2 linked regions of the Homo sapiens genome follow. The protein of the gene in region 1 interacts with the protein of each later gene in a pairwise test. Each region holds a gene or a part of one and is shown in the gene's direction. Other genes may lie near its edges. The genes, in order: LMAN1 and SURF4.

Region 1 (14,590 bases):
CGATAGAATCCTGGACTGTATACTTGAAAATTATAAAATACTAGTCTAACCCAATGTTATTAAGAACGTGAGTGTGCTAATGTCAAAAATAAAACATTTTAAGGCCAAATTGAGGGAATTTATATTATCTGCTAGCTTTTTATCTGAATTGTTCCCAGTCAGCATAAGTGATCAAAGGTGTACTTAATAAAGGCTGTGGCTAGCATTTGAACTCTATGTAGTATGCAGTTCTCTTAATGATCAACAGTATGAGTCAGACTTAATGAATTTAAAAATGAAACATAAAGGTCATTCTTATTTTGAATTTGTTTTAAACATCATCACATAAAATTTGTGAGTATATCCTGAAGCTGACTTTAGTGTTTGAAAAGTATTGTTTAGTAAATTTTGACAAATGTGTATACCCATTTAACCATCACCCCGATCAGTACACGGAACATTTTTATCATCCCAGAAAGTTCCCTCATGCCTCCTTAAAGTCAACAACCTTCTCCACAGAGCCCATCACTATTCTTATTGTTATCACTGTAGATTAGTTCTGCCTATTCTTATAAGTAGAATCACACAGTGTAATGAAAGAGAAATATTTTTCCATTTTAATTTTATTTAACTTTTTATGTATTTAGGAAGAGTACAAGTGCAGATTTCTTATATGCTTGTGTCATATAGTGGTGAAGTCTGGGGTTTTAGTGTACTCTCACCCTAATGAACCTGGTACTCAGTGGGTAATTTTCAACCTTCATTCCCCTCCCACCTTTTGTAGTCTCCAGTGTCCGTTATTCCACTCCATTTGTCCATGTGTACCCATTGTTTAGCTTTTACTTATAAGTGAGAATGTATGGTATTTGACTTTCTAAGTCATTTCACTTGGGATAATCACTTCCAGTTCCATCCATGTTGCTGCAAAAGACATAATTTCATTCTTATTTTATGGCTGAGTAGTAGTCTATAGTATATACATACATATATACACACACACACGCCACATTTTCTTTATCAAGTTCTCTGTTGATGGGCATTTAGGTTGATTCCATATCTTTGCTATTGTAAATAGGGCTGCAATAAACGTATAAGTGCAAGTATCTTTTTGATATAATGATTTCTTTCCCTTTGGGTAAACACCCAGTAGTGGGATTGCTGGATCAAACGGTAATTCTAATTTTAGTTCTTTGAGAATTCTCCATACTGTTTTCCATGAAGGTTGTACTAATTTACATTCCCACCAACAGCATATAAGCATTCCCTCTTCTCCACATCTTGACAACATCTGTTGTCTTTTGACTTTTTAATAATGGCCATTGTGACTTGTGTAAGATAGTATCTCATTGTGGTTTTAATTTGGATTTTTTTGATGATTAGTGATGTTGAGCATTTCTTCATTTATTTGTTGGCCACTTGCGTGTCTTCTTTTGAAAAATGTCTGTTCATGCTCTTTGCCCAGTTTTTTAATGGGCTTTTTGTTTTTCTCTTGAGTTGTTTGAGTTCCTTGTAGATTCTGGATATTAGCCCTTCGTTGGATGCATAGTTTGCAAATATTTTTTCCCATTCTGTAGGTTAGATTATTGTGTTGATTGTTTCTTTTGCTGTGTAGAAGCTTTTTAGTTTAAGTCCCATTTGTCTATTTTTGTTTTTCTTGTGTTTGCCTTTGAGGACTTGGTCTAAGTTCTTTACCTAGGCCAATATGCAGAAGAGTCTTTCCTCAGTTTTCTTTTAGGATTTGTATGGTTTCATGTGTTATGTTTAGGTCTTTAATCCATCTTGAGTTAATTTTTGCATATGGTGAGAAGTATGGGTCCACTTGCATTCTTCTATATATAGCTATTCAATTTTTTCTGCACCGTTTATTGAATAGGATGTCCTTTCCCCAGTGTTTATTTTTGTTGACTTTGTTGAGGATCAGTTGATTGTAGGTATGTGGGTTTATTTCCTGGTCCTCTGTTCTGTTCCACTGACTTATGTGTCTGTTTTTATACCAGTATTATGCTGGTTTGGTTACTTTAGCCTTGTAGTATAATTTGAAGTCAGGTAATGTGATGCCTCCAGATTTATTCCTTTTGCTTAGCATTGCTTTGGCTATTTGGGCTCCCTTTTTTTTCCATATGAGTTTTAGGATTTTTTTTTTCTAATTCTGTGAAAAATGACATTGGTAATTTGATTGGGAGTGTCTAGAACTAGTAGATAGTTTTGGGCAGTATGGTCATTTTAACAATATTGATTCTTCCAATTCATGAGCATGGGATACTTTTCCATTTGTTTGTGTCATCTACCATTTCTCTCATCGTTGTTTTGAAGTTCTCCTTATGGAGAGCTTTCCCCTTCTTGGTTAAATATATTTCTAGGTGTTTTTTTTTTTTTTTAGCTGTTGTAAATGGAATTGCCTTCTAGATTTGGTCTGCTAGATCATTATCAGTATATGAAAATGCTACCGATTTCTGTACATTAATTTTTTATCTTGAAACATTACTGAATTCATTTATCAAATCTAAGAGTTTTTTGGTGGAGTCATTAGGATTTTTGAGATATAAGATCATATCATTAGCAAACAGGGATAATGTTACTTACTCATTTCCAGTTTGGATGCCTTTTATTTTTTTCTCTTGCCTGATTGCTCTGGTGAAGACTTCTAGTATTATGTTATTACACGTAAGAGTGATAAAAGTGGCATCCTTGTCTTGTTCCAGTTCTTAAAGGGAATGTTTTCAACTTTTCCCTGTTAAGTGTGAGGTTGGCTGTGGGTTTGTCATATGTGGCCTAATGTTGAGGTGTGTTCATTGAGGATTTTTATCATGAAGGGATGATGAATTTTATTGAATGTCCTTTCTGAGTCTGTTGAAATGATCATGTGTTTTGTTCTTAATTCTGTTTATGTGGTGTATCATATATATGGATTTTTATATGTTGAACCCTCCTTGCATCCCTGGGATAAATCCCACCTTGATCGTGCTGTATTATCTTTTTGATGTGCTGTAGGATTCATTTTGCTGGTATTCTGTAGAGGATTTTTGCATCTTTGTTCATCAGGGATATGGGTCTGTAGTTTTCTATTTTTTTGTGTCCTTGTCTGGTTTTGGTATCAGGGTGATACCGCCCTCATAGGATGAGTTAGGGGGAATTCTCTCCTCAGTGTTTTGGAATAATTTCAGGAGAATTGGTTCTTCTTGATATGTTTGATAGAATTCAGCTATAAGTCCATCTAGTCCCGGCTGTTGTTAAGAGATTTTTTTTTTTACTACTGATTCAGTCTTGCTACTCATTATTGATCTGTTCAGGAGTTCTGTTTCTTCCTGTTTCAGTCTCAGAAAGTTGTGTGTTTCCAGGAACTTATCCATTTCCTCTAGGTTTTCTAGTTTGTGAGCATATAGGTGTTCAAATAGTTTCTGACGATCTTTTGTGTATTTGTGGAATCTGTTGTAATGTCTCCTTCTTTTCTGATTGTGTTTATTTGGATCGTCTCTCTTCTTTTCTTGCCTAGTCTAGCTAGTGGTTTATCAATTTTGTTTATCTTTTCAAGGAAGCAACTTTTTGTTTTGTTGATCCTTTATTAATTTTTTTGGTCTCTATTTCATTTAGCTTTGCTCTTATGTTTGTTATTTCTTTTCTTTGCTAACTTTGGGTTTGGTTTGTTCTTGTTTTTCTAGTTTGCAGAGGAATAATGTTAGATTGTTTGCGATCTTTCCACTTTCTGATGTGGCATTTAATGCTGTAAACTGCCCTCTTCACACTGCTTTTTTCAGTTTTGGTTTGGTGTTTCCATTTTCATTCATTTCAAGAAATTTTTACATTTGTGTCTTAATTTCTTCATTGACAAAGTGAATGTTCAGGAGCATGCTGTTTAATTTCCATGTGTTTGTTTAGTTTCTTAAGTTCCTCTTAGTATTGATTTCTAGATTCATTCCATTGTGGTCTAAGACACTTGATATGATTCTGATTTTCAAAAATTTGCTAAGACTTATTTTGTGGCCTAATATGTAGTCCTGTGTCGGAGAGTCTTCTATGTGCTGGTGAAAAGAATGTATATTCCATAGTTATTGTAGAAAGTTCTGTAAATGTCTAAGTCCATTTGGTCTAAAGTCCAATTTAAGCCCAATGTTTCTTTGTTATTTTTCTGTCTCGATCTATCTAGTGTTGTGTGTGTGGTGTTAAATTCTCCCACTATTATTGTATTACTGTTTTTCTCTTTCTTTAGGTCTCGTAATAATTGTTTTCTGAATTTTGATGCTCTAATGTTGGGTGCATATAAATTAGGATTGTTATATCCTCTTGGTGAATTGATCCCTTTATCATTATATAATAACCTTCTTTGTCTTTTCTTTTTTAAGTCTGTTTTATCTCATATAAGTACAGCTACTCCTCTCACTTTTGGTTTCCATTTGCTTGGACTATTATTTTCCACCTCTTTACTTTCAGTCTATGTGTGTCTTTATGAATAACCTAAGTTTCTTGTAGGCAGTATATAGTTGTGCCATGTATTTTAATCCATTCTGCCAGTCTGTATCTTTTAGTGGAACATTTAATCCATCTGCATTCAAGGTTAATATTGATATATGAGGCTTTGTTCTTGTCATATTGTTCATTATTTTCAAGTTGTCTTATAAATTCTTTGTTCCTTTCTTTTTTCCATCTTTGTCTTTGTCATTTGATGAAATTCTGTCATGTTGCCATTTGATTCTTACATCTTCCTCCCCTCTGTGATTGTTTTATAAGAACTTTTATTTTATATTTCTGTTTTTATCATGGTGAATATTGCCCTTTTGTTTCCATGTTTAAGACCGCTTTGAGCATTTCCTGTCATGCTGGTCTGGTAATGACGGATTTCCCCAGCATTTGCTTGTCTGGGAAAGGCTTTATTTCTTCTTCATTTGTGAAGCTGATTCTAGCAGGATATAAAATTCTTGGCTGACAGTTTTTTTTTTTCTTTTATTAGCACTTTGAGAATGCCCATTCCTTTCTGGCCTGTAAAGCTTCTGCTGAAAAGTCTGCTGTTAATCTGATGGAATTTCCATTATAAGTGACTAAATACTTCTCTCTTGCTAATTTTAAAATTATTTCACATTGACTTTAGACATTCTGAATACAATATGCTGTAGTGAAACCCTTTTTGCAATATATTTTTCTGGGGATTGCTGGGCCTCCTGTATCTGGACATCTAACTCTTTTGCTAGACTTGGGAAGCTCTCATCAATTATTTTCTTAGTTATTCTCCTTAGCCAGACAACAACTGCAGCCATATGAACTTGAACTCGGACTAAGGATAGGGCACAGCCCAGCATGAAACTCTCAAAATTGTGCCTTGTGCCTGGGACCAGGGAGAGCAGGGCCCTTCCTAGTCAGGTGTCATGAGCAAGAAGCTGTAAGGAGTGCAGTCTGCTCACATCTCAGTTTCACAAGAGCCCATTGCAGGGCAGTGGGTATTGTCCTAGATATGCATAGGAGAGCCTGTTTCCTGTCTCTCCTTGGCCAGGTGGTAGCTACAGCCTTGTCAGCCCAAACATAGCCTGAGGGTGGGGCACAACCCTCCATTAAACTCTCAGTGTTTCACCTTGGGTCTGGGACCAGAGAGGGTAGGGTCCCTTCCAGGCAAGCAGCATGGGCAAGAAGCTGTGGGGAGTGCTGTCTACTCATGTCTCAGTATCAGCAGCACCCTTCAGCAAGGCAGGAGGGACCTTCCTAGGGGTGCATGGGAGTGACCAGTGTCCCCCCTTCTCTCCTTGGAACATTGCAGCGACTGCAGCCATGTCTGTAGATCCCCAGTATCTAGGCTATCAACAGTGGTGCCCAACTGGAGCTGTTGTAGGCTCAAATGCCTGTGGGATTCCATGTGGTTTCCCTTTATGGAGCAACATCTCTGTGCAATATTTAGGCAGTTCCATATGTCCAGCCCACAGCCCTAGTGGGTCAGAGGTTTCTCCTGTAGCCAGGATCATAAAAGCCCATTTTGGACTGCAGGGCCCTGGGGTTTTCTCTCTTACTGTTTCCCATCATCTAGGAGCCCTTCTGGTGCTCAGTCAGCTCCTGGCTGGGCAAGCTGCCTCAAACTCTCTCCTTATTTTGGTGCTTCCCATTTCTTCTCTGATGAATCCTAGCATTCTCTCCTAGGCAATCTATTTGAAATGCAAGTATCTACTTACTACTCTGGTTTTTCTCCGTGGAGGAGGTACATACTACTTGCATCTGGTTAGCCATTTTGATCCCTCCTGAGATTATCCAAGAAAAATTGTTTTTAAATAAAAAAATTTAAACCCAGTTTATAATAAGTGTTCAATCACCTGAAATGGCAGAAAACAAATAATTTAATCATTATTGAATTAATTATTTGCATATTTTCTGTTTGGGAGATTGTACCACTGTGATGGTGATGTCCTAATTTTGCTGAATGTTGGCACTTTGGTCACTTACGTTATTTCAAAAACTACATATGTGTAGGTGACTCTGATCATTTTTATTTATTTCCTTTTCAGCGGAGGAAATATTTGAGAGTGTAGGAGATCGAGAGCTAAGACAAGTCTTTGAAGGACAGAATCGTATTCATCTTGAAATCAAGCAGCTGAACCGGCAGTTAGATATGATTCTTGATGAACAGAGAAGATATGTCTCTTCCTTAACAGAGGAAATCTCTAAAAGAGGAGCAGGAATGCCTGGGCAGCATGGGCAGGTGGGCTTGCAGAATATGCAGATGTGCCCCATTTACCCTTTGCTGGAAGGGAAGTAAAGAAGAAGGGCAACTGTACTATGTGCTCATAGAATGTGGATTATTCAGCTTGCTCGTCATTGTTTCTTCCTCCAGATTACTCAACAAGAACTGGATACTGTTGTGAAAACTCAGCATGAGATTCTGAGACAAGTAAATGAAATGAAGTAAGTATGGAAAAGTAGCGTTTGTGTGTTATGTGATTTTTTTTATCCTAAATTTGTGACTTCAGGTGTGCAAGCACTGTATTGCAAGATTTCTGCATGAGGGTAAGAATCCCGTTCTAGATTCATTTTACAAATAGGGGACCATAAATACAGCAACTTTTAATATTCAAAAACTGCAAACATGTCTAAAGTTTTTAATTGTTTAGAGCTGGAAAAGAAAAAATGTTTTGGCATCTTTTAAAGAGATTTGTCAGTTACTTGACAGAGCCAGGTGTGTTCTTATATTTATAAAATATAAAAAGAATATGAAATAATATATAACACTTTTATGAAAAGTACTAGAGGAATAAATATGTGTAGCATTGTAAGACTATAATACAAGCAGACCTGATGCAGGAAATTCTTTTTGATGGAATGAAACCATTTTGAACGTAATATGTGTGACTACCTCTTTTTCATTCCCATCTTTTACTCTCAGAGAGACTGGACAGAGTTGGAGCAGAGAGGAGATAATTGTGTCCTTAGAATGTTGAACAATAAATTTCTAATGAGAATGATTGACTTATGCAGATAATTAATAGCTTTCAATGCCTGGAGCAGAGATAACAAACCATAGTGTCATGTTTCCATAACCTAACATTTCAGAGCACTGTCCCAACCGATAGAACCCTTGACAAACAAGAATGTCAAGGTGAGTTCTTTAGGACTGGAGAATTAAACAAGGTTAGATCAAACAGAAGGTGATTATACCTGATGTCTAGAGATTAAAGGCACTTAACTTATAACTGCAAATTTATATTTCTTCAATTTTTCTCTTTGCATTTTAAAAAATCTTCATAATCTGAACTCATGATTGAAATATTTATGATGCTAGATGAATAGTTTAGCTCTTCAAATAGTTTAGTTAAATGAATAGAATCCTTTTAGAAATAGACTGGATCATGTAACGCAACCTTTTTAAAAATCTTTTTATTTCGATCTAATTTTAGACCTCAGAAGCTACAGAAATAGTATGGGAAGTTTCTATACATTCTTCACCCATCTTTCTCTAATTTATATAACCATGGTTTAATTGTCAGAACCAGGAAATTAACATTGATACAATTCAATCAACTAAATTAATGACCTATTCAAAATTTATCAGTTTCTCCACCAAGGCCTATTCTATTCCAGGATCCCATCCACAATCGCACATTACATTTAGTTATTTTTTCTCTTTAGCCTTCTGCAGTCTGCAGTAGTTCATCTTCCCTTGTCTTTCATGACCTTGACATTTTCCAAGAGCATTAATCAGTTAATACCTTTTGATTTGGGTTTGGTTGGATGGAAGTTCCACATTTTGATAAGAAGATATTATATATTATAATATGTTATATAATATAATTATATATATTATTATATAAGATTGGTAAGATATTACTGATGATGTTGGCTGTGATCACTCGGTTATGGTGGTTTCCTATTGCTATCTCTACTTTAAAGTTACTGTATTTCCCTTTGTGGTTAGTATTTTGGAGAAGGTACTTTGAGACTATGTAAGTATCCATTTCAACCTTCTGCTCATTCATTTTAGCATCCATTGATGTTTCTTGCCTGTAACAAGAAAGTGGTTTTTGCCAAATGCTGATTTTTTTTTAATTTTTATTTTTATGTATTTATTTATTTATTTTTTTGAGACAGGGTCTAGCTCTGTTGCCCAGGCTGGAGTGCAGTAGTGCAATCACAGCTCTCTGCAGCCTCAACCTCCTGGGCTCAAATGATCCTCCCATCTCAGCCTCCTGAGTAGCTGGGACTACAGGTACATGCCACCACACCCAGCTAATTTTTCTATTTTTTTTGGAGTTGGGATTTTGCCATGTTGCCCAGGCTGATCTCAAACTCCTGGGCTCAAGCAGTCCTCCTGCCTCTGCCTCCCATAGTGTTGGGATTACAGGCGTGAGCCACCACGCCTGGCCCCGATGTTTATATTTCGAAATAATTCCCTCCATATTTGTTCATTGGAATTCTGCTGTCAGGACCAACTATCTTTTCTCTCCCATTTATTTATTTAGTTATTTATTTAGATCAGTTCAGACTCATGGATACTTATTCCATAGGTTACAGTCCAACACTCTCCTTATTTATTTTGCTGCTCAAATTGTTTCAGGTATGGTCATTCTGAGCTCCTTCATGTTGGCATCTTTGTTCTCTCAACAAGCCCTCATCTTTTTTTGAGCATTTTAAAAATTTATGGTACTGCTCTATCTTCTAGGGTCATCTTGTATTTTCTCTGCCCTCAGTGAGCCCTGGTTCCTTTTTCTTGAGAAAGGTATTTGAAAACCAACCTTTGGGCACTAGGTATGCTCATTACTACCGCGGTGCCGTTACCTCTAGGCCTCTTACTGGACAGAGCTAGGGAATATACATATGTATACCAACCCATGCATGTACATGAGTCTGTAGTTCCGTGTCTGTCAACCTACTCTTGTGTTAAACCATGAGATTATGCAGATATTTTGGATTCTGGCTGGACTGAACACTACAGAGTTAATTTTTAACTTTCCCCCTTGTCTTATTTGAAAATTCTTCCTCCAACAGGGAAAAACCTGGTTCTTATTATCTGTATCTATAACATATTTACTTATTGGTTTCACTTGAGTATGCATATAAGTACACACAAAGTGGTTTCAAATTGTTAGCTCGTATCCCTGTGAGAAAGACATTTACTGACAAGTTTATGTAAAGTTCCTTTTATCTCTAGCTTTACAGTATCCAGCCCAGATACTCTTTTCCAGATAGTTTCTTAGTGTAGTTCTCTTTTTCCCTACTCTTTTCATTATGGCTGATATTACTCATTTAGGATCCAGCTAGATTCTTTGTTAATGTTTATATTCCTCCTATATCCTGGTTGATTTAAATTGTTTGTATTTTGGGTATATGAATACTATGGTTCTAAGGGGCAGAGCATGTGTATATCGCTTCTTCATCCTTGCTACCACTTTCCCATCCTCCCCTTCTTTCCAGCTGTTTCCCACCCATTCCCTCTTGGTAACCAATTCTGTTAGCTTCCGGTTTGTTCTTCCTGTATTTCTTCTGCATATACGTATTTTCTTTTTCTTTTCTTTCTTTTTTTTTTTTTCTTTTGAGATGGAGTTTTGCTCTTGTTGCCTAGGCTGGAGTACACTGGTGCAATCTTGGCTCACCGCAACCTCTGCCTCCTGGGTTCATGCGATTCTTCTGCCTCAGCCTCCCGCCTAGCTGGGATTACAGGCACCTGACACCATGCCTGGCTACTTTTGTATTTTTAGTAGAGATGGGGTTTCTCCATGTTGGCCAGGCTGGTCTCGAACTCCTGACCTCAGGTGATCCACGCGCCTTGGCCTCCTAATGTGCTGGGATTACAGGTGTTAGCCACTGCACCCAGCCCATATTTTCTGAAGTCCCTTTCTTTCTTATGTGACGGGTAGCATATTCTAGATACTCTTTTGTGCTTTGCATGTTTTACTTAACAGTAGTACTAGGACATCTAAAGATGTAACTAGTTGTCAGGACGTCCTAGCTGTCCAGTTGTATTATCCATAGAATCCCTTTCTTAGAGGAGTTAACAATCCTTGCAAACTCCCACTTACTGAGAATAAATGTCATGCATACAGTAAGTTAATATAAAAACTGAGCTCAAGTTTCTGAACTAGTGCTCTGGAACTTTTTCTTTAGGATTTAGCTTCAAAAAAAAAATGTAAAGAGATAGAAAATATTTGCCTTTAATGGAAAGGGTAGTTTGTTTCTTTGTGGATTTTTATATTCTTAAGGAATCAAAGAAATTTTTTTTAGCAGAAAGAGATCTTAGAAAGCATGTAGCTTTTCTGTAGCAGTTGATGCCTCTTCCCACTTCTCCATCTCAAAACTTCCCTTTTAAGATTTCTGATACACCATTCACTCCTGGTATTCTTTGGCCTCTGCTTCCATTTAGTTATCTTCACTTGCTCTCCTTCCATCGTCCCTTAAAAGGTATTCTTTTCAAGCGTTCTGTCCAGCCCTCTTTTCACTTGACCTGTTTCCTAAACCAACTATGACCTCCTTCAACCACAATTCTATCCCCATAGGCTCCTCTTCATTTTTTGACACTCAGCTAAATGCATCTTTCTTTGTAGAGCTCTAGTCGTGCTTCTGTCACGTTGCTTTCCTGCTAGACAATTCATCTCCACAGGGCAGATATTTCATTCTTCTTGCAAAGTTTATATCCCTAATATTCCCTGGCTCACAGCACTTATGAAATAAATGTTAGCAGAATGAACAGGCAAATGAATGAATGACTGAGTAGGAGCAAATTAAGTGACTCAATCTTTGGTATATTAAAAAGACATTTATACCTAAGCAAGTTCATGCTTCTGGGAAGCAGAATTTCTTAAATACAAATATGTGACAACGTTACATACTCTGTGAGGTTTTGGTCTTGGTATTATTTTAGTTATATTAAAATGTTATGCTTAATTTGAGTTTAAGTGGAAAAGCTTAGCCCCACAGGAATTTTCTTGAGCATATGTGCCATTGAAAGAAATTTTAATCAACACGTGACATTGATTCAAAAGCACTTGAGATATTTTGTAACTACTTTTAAGTCTTCACTGCTCATGTAACTCAAACATAATTTTTTAAATGTTATACTTAACATTCTGTCTGACATATAGTGTTATTTTTAAGTAATTTGAGTCTCTTTTTTTTTTTTCTTTTGGTAAAGCTCTTACTTTTTAAACTACATTTGACTCCAGTGAAATAACTTATTTATTTATTCCTCCAAATTGAACCATAACTGTTGAATGCACTCGTAGGAAATCAGAATTGTGACCCCTGTCCTCAGGGTCACAAAGCCATTAGCCTCCTACTATATGCTGTATGAGTGAAATCATCTATATGTGCAGCTACAAAGCGGACAAGTCTGTGTGTGTGTGAGTGTGCCTATAGGAAATGATTGCGTTTGGCACTAGTCCTTTACTGTACAGCTGAACACCTAGAAAGATTTATTATAACTTCATTAAAAATATCATCCATTATATTCAATATCCACTTATACTATTGGTTTTAACACAGATTACCTAGTAGTATTTTCTACATGGTATTTTTAGATGACCTTTAGTAAAATATAAAGGCATAATGTCGTTTTATAAATTATTTTCCAATTTTGAACACAACTCGATTTTTAAAGATACTTTACCTGTTTTTTTTTTTAAATGATGTAATATATTAGACTTGAAAAGTAAAAGTATTGGAGATCTGTGACTGAAAAAAAAAAACTTTATAGTGATTTTATTGTATCAAGAGACTTTCTGTTTCAGAAATTCCATGAGTGAAACCGTCAGACTGGTCAGTGGAATGCAGCACCCTGGCTCTGCTGGAGGCGTCTATGAGACAACACAGCACTTCATTGACATCAAAGAGCACCTGCACATAGTAAAGAGGGACATAGATAACTTAGTGCAGCGAAATATGGTAACTTTGTTTCCTTTTCCTTTTATAATTATAATCTTTAGGAAAGGAAGAACTCATACTCTACTGCAAGTATTTTAACCCTTTAGTTAATGCTAATGCTTATTTTTAATGTTTAAGGTAGAATTGTCCCATTTATTGCAGATCTCCATGTGTCCTGGTTTTCTAGTTATTGAAGGTGGAAGAACAGTTCCCATAGCAGTCATGGTTTTTTAATATGTAATATTTATATTATCATTTCGTGAAAATATTTTCTGATTTCCATGTTAATGTCTTCTCTGACCCATGGATTGCTTAAAGTGTATTTCTTTGGCCTATTTTTCCGTCAAGGTTCTAATCTGGTAATTTCTTGCTATCTTGTTAGCTTCATTTACCTTCACCCAGGTTTCGTGTGCTTGGATTGGATTAGATATGTTTTTGACTCTGCTGGTTGTCTTCTATAAGACATATTTGGGATATGGTTGGCCCATATTTCCTAGTCTGCTTTACCAGAAGCAGAAATCCCAATCCCTTATATTTTATATCGCGTTTTATCTTTTTAAAAGCTTTTTAAAACGTTTGATGACCTTTAGAAAATATACTAATAGATTAATAATAATGTTACATTAAACTGACTCTCCCAAGGTCAGTAGCTAGTAAGTAGGAAAGGGAGAAAACTTAGGTCTTCAGCTTCTAATCTTGTCTCCTTTATATTTTTTGATAACTCTCTTAACTATATTCCTGTATATATGCCTTGAATATACATTTTTTTCAAAGATGGCTTAATAGTTTTCTTATTGATCATGACCTCTCATCCAAAGCATTATTATCTGTCCCCTTAGTTCTGTTTGAGGTTATTTTTCTCGTACATTGTCTTTGTTGCAATGACCAAATTGATACTGTGTGTATCAATTTACTGAAGAACTTTGTCCCACAAATATAACTATATTGGGAACAACTAATCTTAGAAGCCATTCTCTCTGGGTACTTGGATGAAGTCTTTGTTCCTGGTATTTAATTGCCTCCTTATAATAGAAGGAATACTCAGGGAAATAGGGAAAGAAATATTTTTCAGAACACCAGTGAATAATGTTGAATGATATGAGATTGTAGAGAATGAGGACTGAGAAAAAGCCAGTCTGTTTGTCAAGTAGTTCATTGGTAGGGTAACCATGTAATTTATTGTCTGACCTGGGACACTTTTGAGAATGAAGGGGTGCTAATAATCACACCACTACAGCAAGCGTGAACTGGGAGTATCCAGAGGAGTTGTCTGTGGTGACGCTAGTCTCAGTGACCTCAGGGACAGCAACATCATCATATACTGTAATGCAGACAGGAGCCAGGAGGCAGTGAGTTAGTGACTGGGTAGTAAAAAGGTGGAGGCCTTCCAGTGTCAACTACTCCTTCAAAAACAGTTGTCAGTAAAAGTTAAGGGGATAGAAGGTTTTCTGGGGGATGAAAAAATGAAAATACTTGTTTATATAGCAAACAGTTTTATAAAGATTTCACATTTATTTCTTTTTCCAAACTGCTATTTTGACTAACTGTAATAGAAAGTCATTTGCCTTACAGCCATCAAATGAAAAGCCGAAATGCCCAGAACTACCACCATTTCCATCATGTTTGTCTACGGTCCACTTCATTATATTTGTTGTGGTGCAAACTGTATTATTCATTGGTTATATCATGTATAGGTAAGTCTCTTGATAAAATGTGACCCAATATTTTTCTGCATCTGTTTAATTAGAAATATTCAACTAAGTTATCTATGTTCATAATACAATTTTCACCACCTATAAAATTAAGTTTATTGTGATTTCTGTTCATTTCAGTTCACATAAAGTGCACGTGTAGAATATATGTTTATCTTAATGCGTTGTATACTTCAAAAGGCATTGATATTTTAATTTTAAATAGTCCTGTTTCTTTCCAAAGTTAAGCGTATAGAACTTCTTTAAGTGTTTGTTTCTTTTTTTCATTAGGTCTCAGCAAGAAGCAGCTGCCAAAAAATTCTTTTGACTACCATTTTCCTGTGTACTTCATCTATTTGTGTACAAAATGATGTCGTTTTGAGGGAATTTAAGTATTTAAATTGCTTCATAGTCTAAATTATTAATTTTCTTAATAAAATAACTGTTTAAACATTGATTTGCAGTTAAGAATAAACCTTAAAGCAAAGACAACCACATTTTAATTTGTTCACAGTATGTAAATCTGTCTAAATTTCAGTGAATTTCTGGTCAGTATGATGCAGCCTCTGAGCAGAATATTGACCAGTAAGAGGGTAAAT
Region 2 (15,238 bases), on another chromosome or scaffold:
GCAGAGGGAGCGTGTGAGGGGCCTTTCCTGCTCGGACCCGGGATTGTTGGCCCCAGGTGGGAACACCAGTGTGGACATCTCATGCAGGCTGGCGCCTGGCAGAAGGCTTCTCAGCCTCTCTTTACCTCCAGCACCCCTTGTGCCTGCTCAGCCTCCCGCTGTCTGCCTCAGTCCCATCAGAAGTGACTGGAAAGCTCCTGGCTCCTTGTAAAGACAAGAAGTCATCCAGCCTACAGGACCCGGCTGCTGGACCTGAGTCTCCGTCCCCAGTCAGCTGTTTACTAGCTGTGTGGCCTTGGAGAGCTCCTGAACCGGAGCCCTAGGCCCCATCAGGAGCACAGGGACAGTACTTCCTGCCCTGCAGCCCTCCTGGCACGTGATGACGGATGTGGTGCTGGTCAGTAAGCTGCACAGGGGCTGCAGGAGTAAGGGGCGCACAGGCCCAGGACGGCACCGGTGTCGGGTGGCTGTGGAGACGGAGGTCAACTAGCTCCTTCCATGAAAGTAAAAACTCTGTCATCAGAGGCACAGGCTCACCAGGACAAGCTCGTTGGCTGCGTGCAGAGCCCGGGAGTCAGGCCCATCTGGCCTGGCCCTCTGGCTTGGCCACGTACTAGCTGGGTAACCTGGAGCAACTTGTTTCTGTTAGCCTCTGTTTCTTCTTCTGTCAAATGGGTTAAGAACCCCTCCTGGTCAGGCGTGGTGGCTCACGCCTCTAATCCCAGCACTTTGGGAGGCCGAGGCGGGCGGATCACTTAAGGTCAGGAGTTCAACACCAGCCCAGCCAACATGGTGAAACCCCGTCTCTACTAAAAATACAAAAATTAGCCGGGCATCATGGCACGCGCCTGTAATCCTGGCTACTCGGGAGGCTGAGGCAAGAAAATCTCTTGAACCCGGGAGGCAGAGGTTGCAGTGAGCCAAGATCACACCATTACACTCCAGCCTGGGGGACAAGAGCGAGACTTTGTCCAAAAAAAAAAAAAACTCTCCTGACGATGAGGTTTTTGGGGCTCCTATGAGACTATGCACCGAAAGCCCCCAGCATGGTACCTGGCCCCAGTGAGTGTTAGGTCAGGGGTGGCCACGTTTACAGTCACTGCCATTGCCACACGAGCTATTCTGACAGTGGGGGGTGGGCGTGCTCTGGGCTCAGTCTGCTTGGTCCTGCAGCCCACTGCGTGGCGGCTGAGCCCGTAGGTGTCAGCTCTGACCCACCTCCCCATTCCACGTGATGAACAGCTCCTGGTACACAGAGATGTGGGCGTGCCGCAGCTTCAGCAGTGGCATCAGCTGCCAGGATAGAGCAGAGGAAACGGAGAAGTCAGTGCCTCTCCACGCCTTTCTCAGCTCGGGCTTCTCTGTCACACATCCCAACAAACATGCAAGCCTCGGGCTCTGAGCTGGGCCAGGGAGTGGGCTCAGGGAAGCTGCACGGTGGTTGGGAGCCAGGCAGTCCGATGTGGGTCCTGTCTCCAGCATGAGCTGGCTGTGCTGGGTGACTGGGCCTCATATAGTCATCTGAAAATGGGGGTCCTAGTGGAATCTGCCTCACAGGGATACCATGGGGGGTGAGTGAGCTGTGGCAGGCAGTGCCAGGAAGGTGGGGATCAGCCACAGCCAGGGCTGGCTGGAGGAGGTGGTGCAGACACCGGGAGGTGGGCACACGGAGAGGTCCCGGTGCCCCTGCCCTGGCGGAAAGTGCTTTGAAACATGCCCAAACAGGAGCAGATAGGGCTGCCTTAGAGACATGGAGCCAGACAGACAACTGCTTGGGGTGGAAGGTTGGGCATGAAAGCAGGTGGCCTACCTAGTGGGCTGTGGATGGGAATCGGCAACGTGAAAAGCCACGGCGGCGTGCGGCTCTGGGCAGGCCCCATGCTCTTTCTTCCCATTTGTTACCGAGTAGCCTGGGCCCACCACTGTGCTTCGGTCACACTATACACCCAATAATGTTTGCTGGCCAAGCTCCAGAGCCAGCAATTCCAGAAGACAAACAAGTGACCATGAGATAAGAGGGGACACCTTCAAGCTCGTGGGAAATTCAAGAAACACAAAGAAAGGCTACTCGGAGGCTTTGCCAATCAAACCGAAGTGCAGCTGTTATCGCTATTATTGTAAACGAGTATGTTACTGCTGGGCAGCTCTCAATGGTAGAATTAAGGGTAATTTATATTTGTTTTGTTAAACAGTTCTGGTATGGGTGTGGTGGTACATGCCTGTACCCCAGCACTTTGGAGGCCGAGGTGGGACGATTGCTTGAGCCCAGAAATTCAGACTAGCCTGGGCAAAATGGTGAGACCCCATTGCTATTAAAGAAAAAAAAAAAAAGGTAAAAACAAAAGAAAACCCAATTCTGTATTTTTAAAATTTTCTGCTGTAATTAATAATTTTATATTGAAGAAAAAATATTTAAAGAAGTTATTGGTAGATTAACCTAGGGACCCGGCCAATATTTATTTATTTTTGAGACAAAGTTTTGCTCTGTCACCCAGGGTGGAATGCAATGGTGCAATCTCGGCTCATTGCAATCTCCGCCTCCCAGGTTCAAGTGATTCTCCCGCCTCAACCTCTCGAAGTAGCTGGGATTACAGGTGCCCACCACCATGCCCAGCTAATTTTTTTGTATTTTTGGTTGAGACAGGGTTTCCCCATGTTGGCTAGGCTGGTCTTGAACTCCTGACCTCAAGTGATCCACCCGCCTCGGCCTCCCAAAGTGGTGGGATTACAAATGTGAGCCACCGTGCCCAGCCCAATATTTAAATTTTATGTTCTCTGGGAACATATGTTCTAAGTTGTCGGCACCTGCATTTAGCAGTGAGTGTTTGGGGCATGGACTCCCTTCATGACCTGGGGCTGCTGGCTTCACAGCTGAGGCAAAACTGGTGCTGATGCTCTATCCCTCCCTCCAGCCTTCTCTTCATCCAGGCACTCAACAAGAAGGTACAGAACACAGTCTGTGTATGCTCCATTGAGCTCTTCCAGAGGGAAAACTACCCTGAGAGTTACCTCCTCCAGGGCCTGACTGGCGTAATGGTCATCCATGCATTCCACCTGCAAGGGCACAAGAGCATGAGCTTAATAAACATGTAGCAAATCATCTCCGTTATCACCGCCATCACCACCACCACAACGACCATTACCATCATCTGCACAGCCACCACCTCCACCACAACCATCACCATCATTACCACAACCACAACCAACACCACCATCACTGTCACCATCATCACCATCACCATCATCACCATCACTGCCATCATCACCATCATCACACCACCACCACTACCATTACCACCATCACTCCATCACCACCACCATCAACACTATCATCACCATCATTAACATCATCATTACCACCTTCATCACCACCATCACCATCACTGCCATCATCACCATCATCACCATCACCACCATCATCACCATCACACCACCACCATTACCACCATCACTCCATCACCACCACCATCACCACTATCATCACCATCATTACCATCATCATCATATATCATCACCATCATTACCATCATTACCATCATCACTGCCATCACCATCATTACCATCATCACCATCACCATCACCACCATCATCACACCACCACCATTACCACCATCACATCATCACACCACCACCATTACCACCATCACTCCAACACCACCACCATCACCATCATCACTATCATCACCATCACCACCATCATTACCAAAATCACCATCACACCATCATCACCATCATCACACAATCATCACCATCATCAAAATCATTACCATCACCACCTTAACCATCATCACACCATCACCACCACCACCACTATCATTACCACCATCACACCATCAACACCACCGTCACCATCACCACTATTATCCCCATCATCACCAACCTCATCACCATCATTACCACCATCACCATCACACCACGACCACCATCATCATCACACCATCACCACCATCACACCATCAACACCACTGTCACCACCACCACTATTATCCCCATCATCACCACCATCACCAACATCATCACCATCATTACCACCATCACCATCACACCACCACCATCATCACACCATCACCACCATCAAACCATCAATGCCACTGTCACCATCGTCACTATCATCACCATCATTACCATCATCACCACCATCATCACCATCATTACCATCATCATTACCACCATCACACCATCAACACCACTGTCACCATCCCCACTATTATCATCACCATCACCACCATCACCATTACTATCATCACCATCACACCACCACCACCATCATCACATCATCACCACGACCATAATCACCATGACCACCATCACCATCATCACACCATCACCATGACCACCATCACCATCATCACACCATCACCACCATCACCATTATCATCACCATCATCATCACCATCATCACTGCCACCACCATCACCACCACTACCACCATCATTGCCACCTCCATCATCACCACCATCATCACTATTTAGCAGGAGTGACAGGCTCCCACCATTCCTGCCCCCACCATATGGCACAAATGGAAGATATTCCTAAGGCAGAGATCTAAAAATACTTAGAGCAATGAGAACATCTTTGCTCCTTTTGCAAAGATAAGTTTAGGACAGCATAATATACGCTCCAAGAACTCAGTAAAGGATCCATTTTCAGACCGTCTTTAAACAGGAACATCTTGTTCTGGTTGGGAAAGCATCAATCTCACCACTTCATTCCTTACCCACATGGGGAAGGTTGTCTCCACGCATGGAATGTACAGTGCTCTTCTCTCCTGTGCCCTCTCCGGGTGGAGGTGGGGAGGGCATGGAAAGGGAAGGGTGGTGGCAAGGGCAGCACGGAGCTTTGAGTCTGCAGCACGCTTGGTGGCACAGGCCCTAGGTATATACTACCACTGGCTCTAATACCAGATCCTCACCCAGAATTTTGCTCAAAAGACTTATGAATGAAGTACTCTTATAATGGGGTGAATGCAGACCATCATGTAAAGTTAGTGAATTGTTCCCAGATCTATGGAGAGACCTGAGATGCCAGTGGCACTGTCCCGTGGAATCCAGGGCAAAGACACTGAGTGAGCCTTCCTGTCTTCCTTTCCTCCTGTCCTAGGGGGCATATGAGGAGGTGAAGTTGGCCAAAACATGGAAAGACTTGAAAATGTTACATTGTGGCCGGGCACAGTGGCTCACGCCTGAAATCCCAGCACTTAGGGAGGCCGAGGCAGGCGGATCACCTGAGGTTGGGAGTTCGAGACCAGCCTGACCAATATGGAGAAACCCTGTCTCTACTAAAAATACAAAATTAGCCGGGCGTGGTGGCACATGCCTGTAATCCCAGCTACTTCGGAGGCTGAGGCAGGAGAATCACTTGAACCTGGGAGAAGGGGGTTGCAGTGTGCCGAGATCACGCCATTGTACTCCAGCCTGGGCAACAAGAGTGAGACTCCGTCTCAAAAAAAAAAAAAAAAAGCGGCTGGGTGGGGTGGCTCACGCCTGTAATCCCAGCACTTTGGGAGGCCGAGGCAGGCGGATCATCTGAGGTCGGGAGTTCGAGACCAGCCTGACCATCCTCTCCATGTTGATGGAGAAACCCCGTCTACTAAAAATACAAAATTAGCTGGATGTGGTGGCACGTGCCTGTAATCCCAGCCACTCAGGAAGGCTGAGGCAGGAAAATCGCTTGAATCCGGGAGGCAGAGGTTACAGTGAGCTGAGATCACACCACTGTACTCCAGCCTGGGCAACAAGAGCAAAACTCCATCTCAAAAAAAAAAAAAAAAAAAAAAAAGTTACATCGTATGACCCAGAAATCTCACTCCTAGGAATTTTTCCTAAGGAAATCATGGATGCTAAACAAAACAAAACAAAACAAAACAAAAAAACAAACAAAACCATAATGCCATAAGCATCTTTATCAGAGCTGTTTACACAAAGTGAAAAATTGAGAACAAGCTCAATGCTCAGCCCATGTGATAGGGATGGCTTGGGTTAGTTACAGCACATCAAGCAAGACGGGAGGCCACACAGTTGCCAGAGCCAAGAGAGGAGGAGGCTGTGGGAATGACATGAAACTATGTTTGCAATATAAAAAGGATGCTATCAACTTTAACGATACCATTCTCCTGAATCCAAAAAAGTTTACAAACGCTTAGGAAAAAAGACTGGAAGAACCCATAAACTCCTACCTACACTCTCTTTCCCCAATTTTTATTTAGAAATAATTGGGTGATATTTTTATTTTTAATTTAATTAATTAATTAATTAATTTAGACAGAGTCTCGCTGTGTCACCCAGGCTGGAGTGCAGTGGCGCAATCTCGACTCACTGCAACCTCCGCCGCCCGGGTTCAAGCAATTCTCCCGCGTCAGCTCCCAAGTAGCTGGGACTATAGGCACCCACCACCATGCTCAGCTAATTTTTGTATTTTTAGTAGAGATGGGGTTTCACCATGTTGGCCAGGCTGCTCTCAAACTTCTGACCTCAAGGGATCTGCCTGCCTCGGCCTCCCAAAATGCTGCGATTACAGGGATGAGCCACCATGCCTAGTCATGGCTGACATTTTTAAAAGCTCCTCAGGCCGGACGCGGTGGCTCATGCCTGTAATCCCAGCACTTTGGGAGGCCGAGGCGGGCGGACTGCCTGAGCTCAGGAGTTCCAGGAGTTCGAGACCAGCCTGGGCAACACGGTGAAACCCTGTCTCTACTAAAATACAAAAAATTAGCCGGGCGTGGCAGCGTGTGCCTGTAGTCCCAGCTACTTGGGAGGCTGAGGCAGGAAAATTGCTTGAACCCAGGAGGCAGAGGTTGCAGTGAGCTGAGATCACACCACTGCACTCTAGCCTTGGCGACAGAGCAAGACTCCATCTCCAAACAAAAAAAAAAGCTCCTTAACTGCTCAGAGGGCAGTCAGCCACACTGCCCCAGTGGCTTGTGAGACAAGGGGGCCAACCCCACAGCCAGCCAGCAAGGGAGCAGGGCAGGGGCAAGGACTCCAGGCCCAGCCATACAGGGTGAGACTGCGGAGCTGTACGGACTGAGGCCTGGCCCAGTAGCAGCTGCTGACAAGGCTCCTCCCGCTGTATGGCCAGCCCTGAACCTGCTGGGTCCCTGCCACCACCACAGAGAGGAGGGCATGCCAGGGACTCTTGCAGCAGCTTTCTCACCCTAGTCCCTCTGTTGATCTGGACCTCCCTGTCTCGGACACACAAAGGGCTGTCTTCCTGCAGGCCTACACCTCCCCATGCCCTGCTAGCCCTGGTGAGGAGTGTGGTGGAAGGGCTCAGGGCCTGGTGTGTGACCTTAGCCCTGTGTGACCTTGAGCCAGTCCCCATCCTCTCTGGGCCTGGCTCCCTTTTGGTAAAACTGGTGACCCAGCACTGGGTAGCACGGTGTCCCCCAGTGAGGTGGCCTGAATTCAAATCCTCTTGGAAATTGTGTGACCTTGCCTAGTCTGGCGCTGCATTGAGCCTCACTGTCTTTGGCTATAAACAGGGTCATTGTTTCTGCTTTACAGGGTTGACGGGAGATGAAGTGAGTCAGTGCCTGGCATACAGCACGTGATGCGTAAATGGTGGGAGGTGGTGGTGTTGGAGTAAAAATTAGCATTGCTTCCCCATCAAGGTGACAGAGCTTCACGCACCCCCACATCTACCCCAACCAGATTAGTCTCCGCAAGTGTCAGCAGCGAGGAATCCAGCTGCCGCATCAGGAAGCTTCTCCAACATGGGAAGAGCTTGTATTGGGGAAAATCACAGTCACAGAACCACCCGGCATGGGATGCACAGGCTTGGCCTCTTACCTGCTTTATCACATGCTTGACTTTGGTTTCCATTTCCTCCACCACCAGGTTCACCCCCAAGGCCCCAGGATTCAGCTGGTACAAAACCTATCAGCAAGGAAGAGAGAAGCTTTCAGGAAATGCACACAACTTTTCCCTTTCCAAAAGCCCAGCTCCAACTCCTTTTCTGGCCCTGCTAACTCCCCTGTCAGGCTGGCAGAGCAAGTGGCTCCACCCCATCTTGCAATAGAGGAAATGGCCCAAGGAGGGCAAGAAGCCTTTCAATGGCAGAACTCTGATCTCACCTATTTGGGGCCGATTCTGGAGCTCTTCTACAACCCTGTATCCCTCCCCCAACCTGCAATGAGGACCAGCTGGGCACTCAAGTGCAAGAACCTCCCAGAGAAAAAGGGCTTATTCACTCTCTATAGACCTCTGTGACCTCAACTTCCAGCATCCACCTCCCAACTGGTTTCCAACAAGAAAGTAACCAATCTTGTGACTGGTACAATCAGGAAGCCATTGTGTGCCTGGCATGGTGCCAAGCACTTCACAGCCACCCTTTGCAGTTGACACCATTGCTACCTCTGTGTTTACATTGGGGAAAACTGAGGCACAAGGAGCTAGGTCCTTGCCTGAGGCTATGTCACTAGAAAGCAGGACACTGCCTGGGGTAACTCTGGGGGTCTGATCTTAGAGCCTGTGATTTGAGCCAAATCTGGAGAGATGGCCACCAAGCCAGAACTCTGTGCAGAGACCAAGTGCTATGGGGCAGGGGGCTGGGCCGGGGATTGCTGGAGGCTGACATTCATCAGAGGATTGGGGGAGGGAGGGCAGGACCCAGAGGAGGAGATATGAGGATGGAAGCCTGAGCCTAGGGACTCTCGGAGCCCATAAAAGTCTTAGGAGTCTGTAATCCAGCCTTGTGAGCAGCCTGCTCATGACACTGGATATTCTAAGCCAGGGGTCCCCAACCTAGTCCGTGGCCTGTTAGGAACCAGGCTGCACAGCAGGAGGTGAGCAGCAGGCAGTGGAGCAAAGCTTCATCTGTATTTACAGCCGCTCCCCATGGCTCGCATTACCACCCAAGCTCCACCTCCTGTCAGCTCAGCAGCAGCATTAGATTCTCATGGGAGTGTGAACCCTATTGTGAACAGTGCATGTGAGGGATCCAGGTTGCATGCTCCTTATGAGAAACAAATGCCTGATGATCCGTCACTGTCTCCCATCATCCCGAGAGGATGGTCTAGTTGCAAGAAAACAAGCTCAGGGCTCCCACTGATTCTACATTATGGTGAGTTGTGTAATTATTTCATTATGTATTACAACATAATAATAGAAATGAACTGCACACTAAGTGTAATGTGCTTGAATCATCCCAAAACCATCCTCCCGCCTCCATCTGTGGAAAAATTGTCTTCCACAAAACTGGTCCCTTGTGCCAAAAAGGTTGGGGACTGCTATTTTTTTTTTTCTTTCTGAGACAGAGTTTTGCTCTTGTTGCCCAGGCTGGAGTCCAATGGCGCTATCTTGGCTCACCACAACCTCTGCCTCCTGGGTTCAAGCGATTCTCCAGCCTCAGCCTCCCGAGTAGCTGTGATTACAGGCATGCGCCACCACACCTGGCTAATTTTGTATTTTTAGTAGAGACAGTTTCTCCATGTTGGTCAGGCTGGTCTTGAACTCCCGATCTCAGGTGATCCGCCCGCCTTGGCCTCCCAAAGTGTTGGGGATTACAGGCGTGAGCCACCGAGCCCGGCCAGGGACTGCTGTTCTAAGCCACAGCGGGCTGAGGGCAGAGCTGGTGTGAGAGCGTTCAAGCTTAGGCAGCAAATTAAACAGTAAAATGGAGCCGTATCTCGAATCAAGTCTATTTTTTTTTCCAAAAGCAGGTATATTCCTGAAACGTCTATTTTTTTTTAATCTGAAAAACAACTTTACTTTAAAAATTATCTGGCCACCAGAAGCTCATCTGCTTCACCTCTGGCAACGCCCTATAGTCCTCTCACACAAAGACAATTCTTCCAAAGTGACAAAAATCTAACCCGCAAACTGTTTCCAAGCGAATGCATTTTTCACAAATGCTGAATCTAACATTTAATAAAGTGTATATATCATGTATAGAAGCATTTAATTAAACATTTACTTTTATTTTGCAGCTTTCCTTTTGTGTTTTGTGAATTTTTTAGGTCTCAAACATTTTCACAGACCCACGCTGCAGGGGTGTTTTTAGGGGACTGGGGGCTCCCAATTATGTACTCGGGATGTTCCCGGGGGTCCTGCCTCGGTGGACCCAAGCGCACAGACCCCAGGCACGAAGGATAGAGGAGCTGCCCCACGCCCTCAAATACTCAGCCAGGGCTGGAGAATCCTTAGTCAATTCACAAAGGGGGAAACTGAGTGGCAAAGGGCACCCAGGAGGTCACCGTTGGAGGCCCCCCGGGTTCAACCTAGGAGCTGCAGGCCGACACTGGCCAGGGCGCGGGCCCCTCGCCGCCCTCGGTCGGAACCGCCGGCCGTAGCTCCAGGGTTGCGACCGTTACCCCACGGAGCTCCCGCCTCCCCGCAGGGAACACTCGGCACCTGGTACTTCTCCATGGGCTCTCCGGGGGACCCTGGGCCTCGCTCCCCCTGCGTGGGGCGCCTGCGATTGGACCCTGGCCCAAGCATGATCAGTAGCGACCGCGTACGGGCGAGCGTCCACCCCTGGCCCCACCCCGCGTGGGTCAGTGGGACCCGCGGGATCCTCCCCGCCCGAACGGCGCCCTCGAGGCACTCAGGCGTCCCTCCCGCGCGCTGGCCCCAGACCCCCAGGTCCCCGCCCCCTTAAAAGGGACGCGTTCCGCCGGGCCGGGAGGGACCGCAGGGCCTGCGCGCGGCGGGCGGGGCCTCCAGCGTGAGAGGCGTGGCGTCGAGCGCGGCGGGCGTGGCTTCGAGCGGATGGGTCGGGAGGCTGGGGATGGCGCGTGGCCCCTTTAAGACGCACCGGGGCGGGCCCGGGCGGCGCGCGGCCCCTTTAAGGCTTGGCCTACGTGGCAGCCGCTGGAGCCGCAGCCGACGCGGAGCGAGGCCGGCCGCCGGGCACTTCCTGTGGAGGCCGCAGCGGGTGCGGGCGCCGACGGGCGAGAGCCAGCGAGCGAGCGAGCGAGCCGAGCCGAGCCTCCCGCCGTCGCCATGGGCCAGAACGACCTGATGGGCACGGCCGAGGACTTCGCCGACCAGGTGCGGCCTGCGGGCTCCTCCCCCGGCCCCGGTCCCGACCCAGGCCGCCCGGGCCGCTCCGGAGTCGGCCTCCCAGCGCAGGGCGCCAGGCCCGGGCCGCCCCCTGACTCCTTGTTCCCACAGGGGGACCCCCCCGCCCGGGCCCTCTGTCCCGGCTGGACAGCCCCAAACCCGGCCTCCGGGCCCAGTCTCCCCTGCCCGCTGGGCCGCTCCCGGAGCCCGGGCCTCGGCGCCCTGCCTGGCTAGCCGCCCCCACCCTCCAGCCAGCCCGGGGCGCGGGCTGTGGGGGTTTCTTCCCGGGCCGGCGGCGCGAGTCCTGGCGTTGGGTCGGGTCTGAGGCTCGCGGGGAGCGCCTCGGCGTTTGGAGCTGCTGGGGGGTCCCCGCACGTTTTTCCTCTCACTGGGGCTCCCGGAGGCGGGCTGGGAGCTCGGGGACGAACGGGGGCCGGGGGTCCTCCCAGAGGAAAGGGGGCGCGCTGGCGTGCGCCCCAGCTACAGGAAGCCACAGCACCTTTTCCTTTTCTCTTTCCCAGATGTGCTGGACTCTTGGGGTCCCTTTGACCCTGTCTGCGTCTCCCTCCCCGTTTGGACTCTGCCCTGGGCTGGATTGAGTGGGGACCTGTACACAGCCTGGGAGGAGGGGAAGCCTATCTCCCTGATAGTCTCCTTCCAGAAGTGTCCAGGTGGCATTCTGAGCAACAGGGAAGCCTTTGAAACAGGCGGTTGGGTAACTGTTGAGAGCATTCGGGAACTGGGTGGACAGGATCCGATCCTACAAAGTGAAGGGACACAACTCCCTTCCCTCTTTCTTGATTAAGCTTGACAGAACAAAAAAACAAAAACAAAAGGTGGTGGTGGTTACGCAGATTTATGCCTTTTACTTCTAAAAGAATCCCGTTATGTCGACAAATTAACAGCCTTATCCCCGCAGGGAGAGCCTTGTGTGGCCCACTTGCCGTTTTTTCCTCGGTTTACTTAATGTGTTCGTGTGGCTTTGCTAGAGTTTTAAGTAGTGATGGTTAAATTTTTAAATTTTTCTGGAGGTGGTAGTGAGTCATCAAACTCTGAGGCCTAGACTTATCGGAAGGCTTGTATATGTGTGGTTTAAAAAAAAAAGAAAAGAGTAAGTGACCGTTTTCTGATCAGCTATTGAACTCTTCCGTTCCTCCTGGGGGGTGATCTCTTTCTAGTGTGACCTCACCATCGGTTCTCATTGCAACACTTTCTGTGAGCCAATATTTTAAATTTGGAGGGAAAAAGTAATCAACTTGACGAAGCATTTTTTCCCTAAGATTCTGATTTTGTGCTTAAAGACACAATTTTATTTGTTTATTTATTTTTATTTATTTATTTTTTCTTTGAGATGGTGTTTTGACCTTGTTGCCCAGGCTGGAGTGCAATGGTGTGATCTCAGCACACCACAACCTCCAACTCCTGGGTTCAAGCGATTCTCCTGCCTCAGCCTCCCGAGTAGCTGGGATTACAGGCATGCACCGTCACACCCAGCCAATTTTGTATTTTTTTTTTTTTTAGTAGAAACAGGGTTTCTCCATGTTGGTCAGGCTGGTCTCGAACTCCCGACCTCAGGTGGTCTGCCCACCTCAGCCTCCCAAAGTGCTGGGATTACAGGCGTGAGCCACGGCACCCAGCCTTTAAAGACACAATTTTAAAAACAATTCATATCAAAAGCTCTCAAGAACCAGGTAGACCTTTTAGGTTTGTCAGTTTTCATTGACATAATTTATAGTGACCCATTTATATTTCTCCAAGTCGCAGCTCCCTAAGAAGATGGCTCCTCATAGCTGAGGGAAGGATGAGAGCTACATACACTCGCTCTTTGTCCTGGAAAACCTGGATTTGCAAGTGAATTTCATAACCAAATCTAGATCAAATGTCTCCAGTCAAGCTGCTGCCCACTAGCAAATGACAGACTCCCCTATTGACAAAAAAAAGTTCCCAGTGTCTTCACATACTGTTTTCTTCTTCTTTTTTTTTTTTTTTTTTTTTTTTTTGAGACAGAATTTCGCTCAGGCTGGAGTGTAATGGTGCGATCTCGGCTCACTGCAACCCCCGCCTCCCGGATTCAAGCAATTCTCCTGCCTCAGCCCGAAGTAGCTGGGATTACAGGCGCCTGCCACCACGCCCAGCTAATTTTTTTGTATTTTTAGTTGAGACGGGGTTTCCCCATGTTGGCCAGGCTGGTTTCGAACTCCCGACCTCAGGTGGTCCGCCTGCCTTAGCCTCCCAAAGTGCTGGGATTACAGGCGTGAGCCACCCTGCCCTGCCTTTTCTTCATGTTTTGTTATTATGTTTTTTTTGGAGACAGAGTCTTACTTTGTCACCCAGGCTGGAGTGCAGTGGCGCAATCTCATCTCACTGCAACCTCCGCCTCCCGGGTTCAAGCTATTCTCCTGCCTCAGCCTCCTCAGTAGCTGAGATGACAGGCCCACGCCACCACGCCCCGCTAATTTTTGTGTTTTTAGTAGAGACAGCATTTTGCCATGTTGTCATGTTGTCCAGGCTGGTCTCAAACACCTGACCTTAGGTGATCCGCCTTGGCCTCCTAAAGTTCTGGGATTACATGCCTGAGCCACCGCGCCCAGCCTTCATCATGTATTCTGTTATGTTTTAAATGAAAGAAGCAGTAGCTTGGAACTGGAAAGGCTCTTGAGGGGGCACAGAGTCGACCTCTCCCAGGTTACTGAGGGGAGGCCAAACCTGCTCAGGCTCCTAGACTTGCCTGTGACCAAGACCAAGAAAAGCCGGGTCTTGGTCCCCAGCGCCCCCAGCCCCTGGTGTTGCTCTTCTGGCACAAGTCAAGGGAAGAGCACTAGCGGGTGAAGGGGCTGCTCACATACAAAACCCAAGTGGGTTAGGACCATATCTGTAAGGCACCATATCTGTAAGGCAGCGCAGGCTGCCGCCGTCAGATGATCTCCTTAAGAGTCCGTCTAGGTGGTGGCAGAGCATGGCTGTGGGAGCTTCCATGCCCTTTTGTGGGCAGCTTGGGAGGGCAGCTACTTGTACTCGCCCAAACCCCAATCAGACAGATGCAGGCAAGTAAACAGGGTTCGAAGTCAAAATATGGCTTCTTGTGGACAGAATCTGACCAAGCCCAGGTGGGGCTTTGTTTCTCTTTATTCACATAGTACTTAAAGCTGCCAGACCAGGCTTTTACATGAAAATGACCTAATTTGAAGCCGATAGAGGATTACCATGGAAGTCACTGATCAGATAAAGTGACACATCCATTTTTTCACATCTTCAGAAAACAAGAGCAAAACTGAAGTGACAAGATTTGACCAGAAAGTGTGGGCTGCTGAAAGCAAGACCTAAGTAAGCTTAGTTTCCCAGGCCCAGTGTCTTCCAGTATTATGACAATGACATTAAGTCTTTCACTGGGCCGGGTCCATGATAGACATTCCTTTTGTGAACTTCTTGACTGTAGGAGGTTGGCCAGAGCGTCACCATCTTCAGATGGGCAGAGGGAGGTTGGCTGGCCGCACTGGCTTGTGGTGGCCTGGAGACTGAGTCCGCATCCTGTTACCCCAAAGGCTGGGTTCCTCACTGCTTGGTTGACTGATCTTTCCTTCTGGCCTGCAGAGGCTGGTCCACGGGGACGAGCAGTCTGGTTAGTTTCTGCTGGCAGGCTCCCCACAGTTGCATCTCTTGTCTCTCTGCCTCTGGCATCAAGCTGCTTGCTCTGGCAGCCAGGGACAGTGTCCTCTTGCTCCCAGGAGCCATGCTCTGTAGAAACTGCTGAGACGTGCTCTATGCAGGAGCTTGGCATTTGGAAGCCATGGGAAGGGTCCAGAAACTAATGAACTCAGCAATCCAAACTAATGTCCATGCCTGCAGCTGCTCCTCATTGCCTATTAGACACTCTGTAAAATGTAGCTTCTAAGCAGTTTATACCCATAAACAGCAATATTAGCACTTAATGGGTTCTGCCTGGTGGCTCATCACCAAGGTGACAGAAAAGCTGCATGGGGCCTTCCTCTCCAGTGTGACCTTTGGTGTTTTTAACCTGTCCTCAAGAGTGGCAGAGCTAGTCCTGGGCCCTAGGAGCTGGCCTCGGCCCTAGTTGAAGTGCTGGGGAAGCAAGGATAGGCCTGAGGACCCCTGAACTTGCAGGTGGCACAGGCACTGTGAGGGTCCCGATGAACACCATGCTGGTGACTGGTGTGGCAAAGTCCTGGTGACAGTGGCAGGCTCTGTCATACCCTGCCCTATATCATGAAGGAGTGGGG

What was found.
Region 2: the proteins of LMAN1 (region 1) and SURF4 interact in binary tests that used the Homo sapiens proteins (3 or more experiments, as listed by UniProt).

What each region holds. Positions count from the first base shown.
Region 1 is NC_000018.10:59,330,822-59,345,411, reverse strand, and holds part of LMAN1 (protein ERGIC-53 precursor), read left to right. Parts: intron 1-6,458; coding exon 6,459-6,652; intron 6,653-6,784; coding exon 6,785-6,855; intron 6,856-12,167; coding exon 12,168-12,321; intron 12,322-13,872; coding exon 13,873-13,994; intron 13,995-14,282; coding exon 14,283-14,319; 3' UTR 14,320-14,590. UniProt on the Homo sapiens protein: Mannose-specific lectin. May recognize sugar residues of glycoproteins, glycolipids, or glycosylphosphatidyl inositol anchors and may be involved in the sorting or recycling of proteins, lipids, or both.
Region 2 is NC_000009.12:133,371,672-133,386,909, reverse strand, and holds the start of SURF4 (surfeit locus protein 4), read left to right. Parts: upstream 1-10,849; 5' UTR 10,850-10,940; coding exon 10,941-10,988; intron 10,989-11,349; exon of another isoform or gene 11,350-12,111; intron 12,112-13,001; exon of another isoform or gene 13,002-15,238. Other genes in the region: serine/threonine kinase-like domain-containing protein STKLD1, read right to left, coding at 1,219-1,293, 3,010-3,054, 7,788-7,874, 10,350-10,436. UniProt on the Homo sapiens protein: Endoplasmic reticulum cargo receptor that mediates the export of lipoproteins by recruiting cargos into COPII vesicles to facilitate their secretion.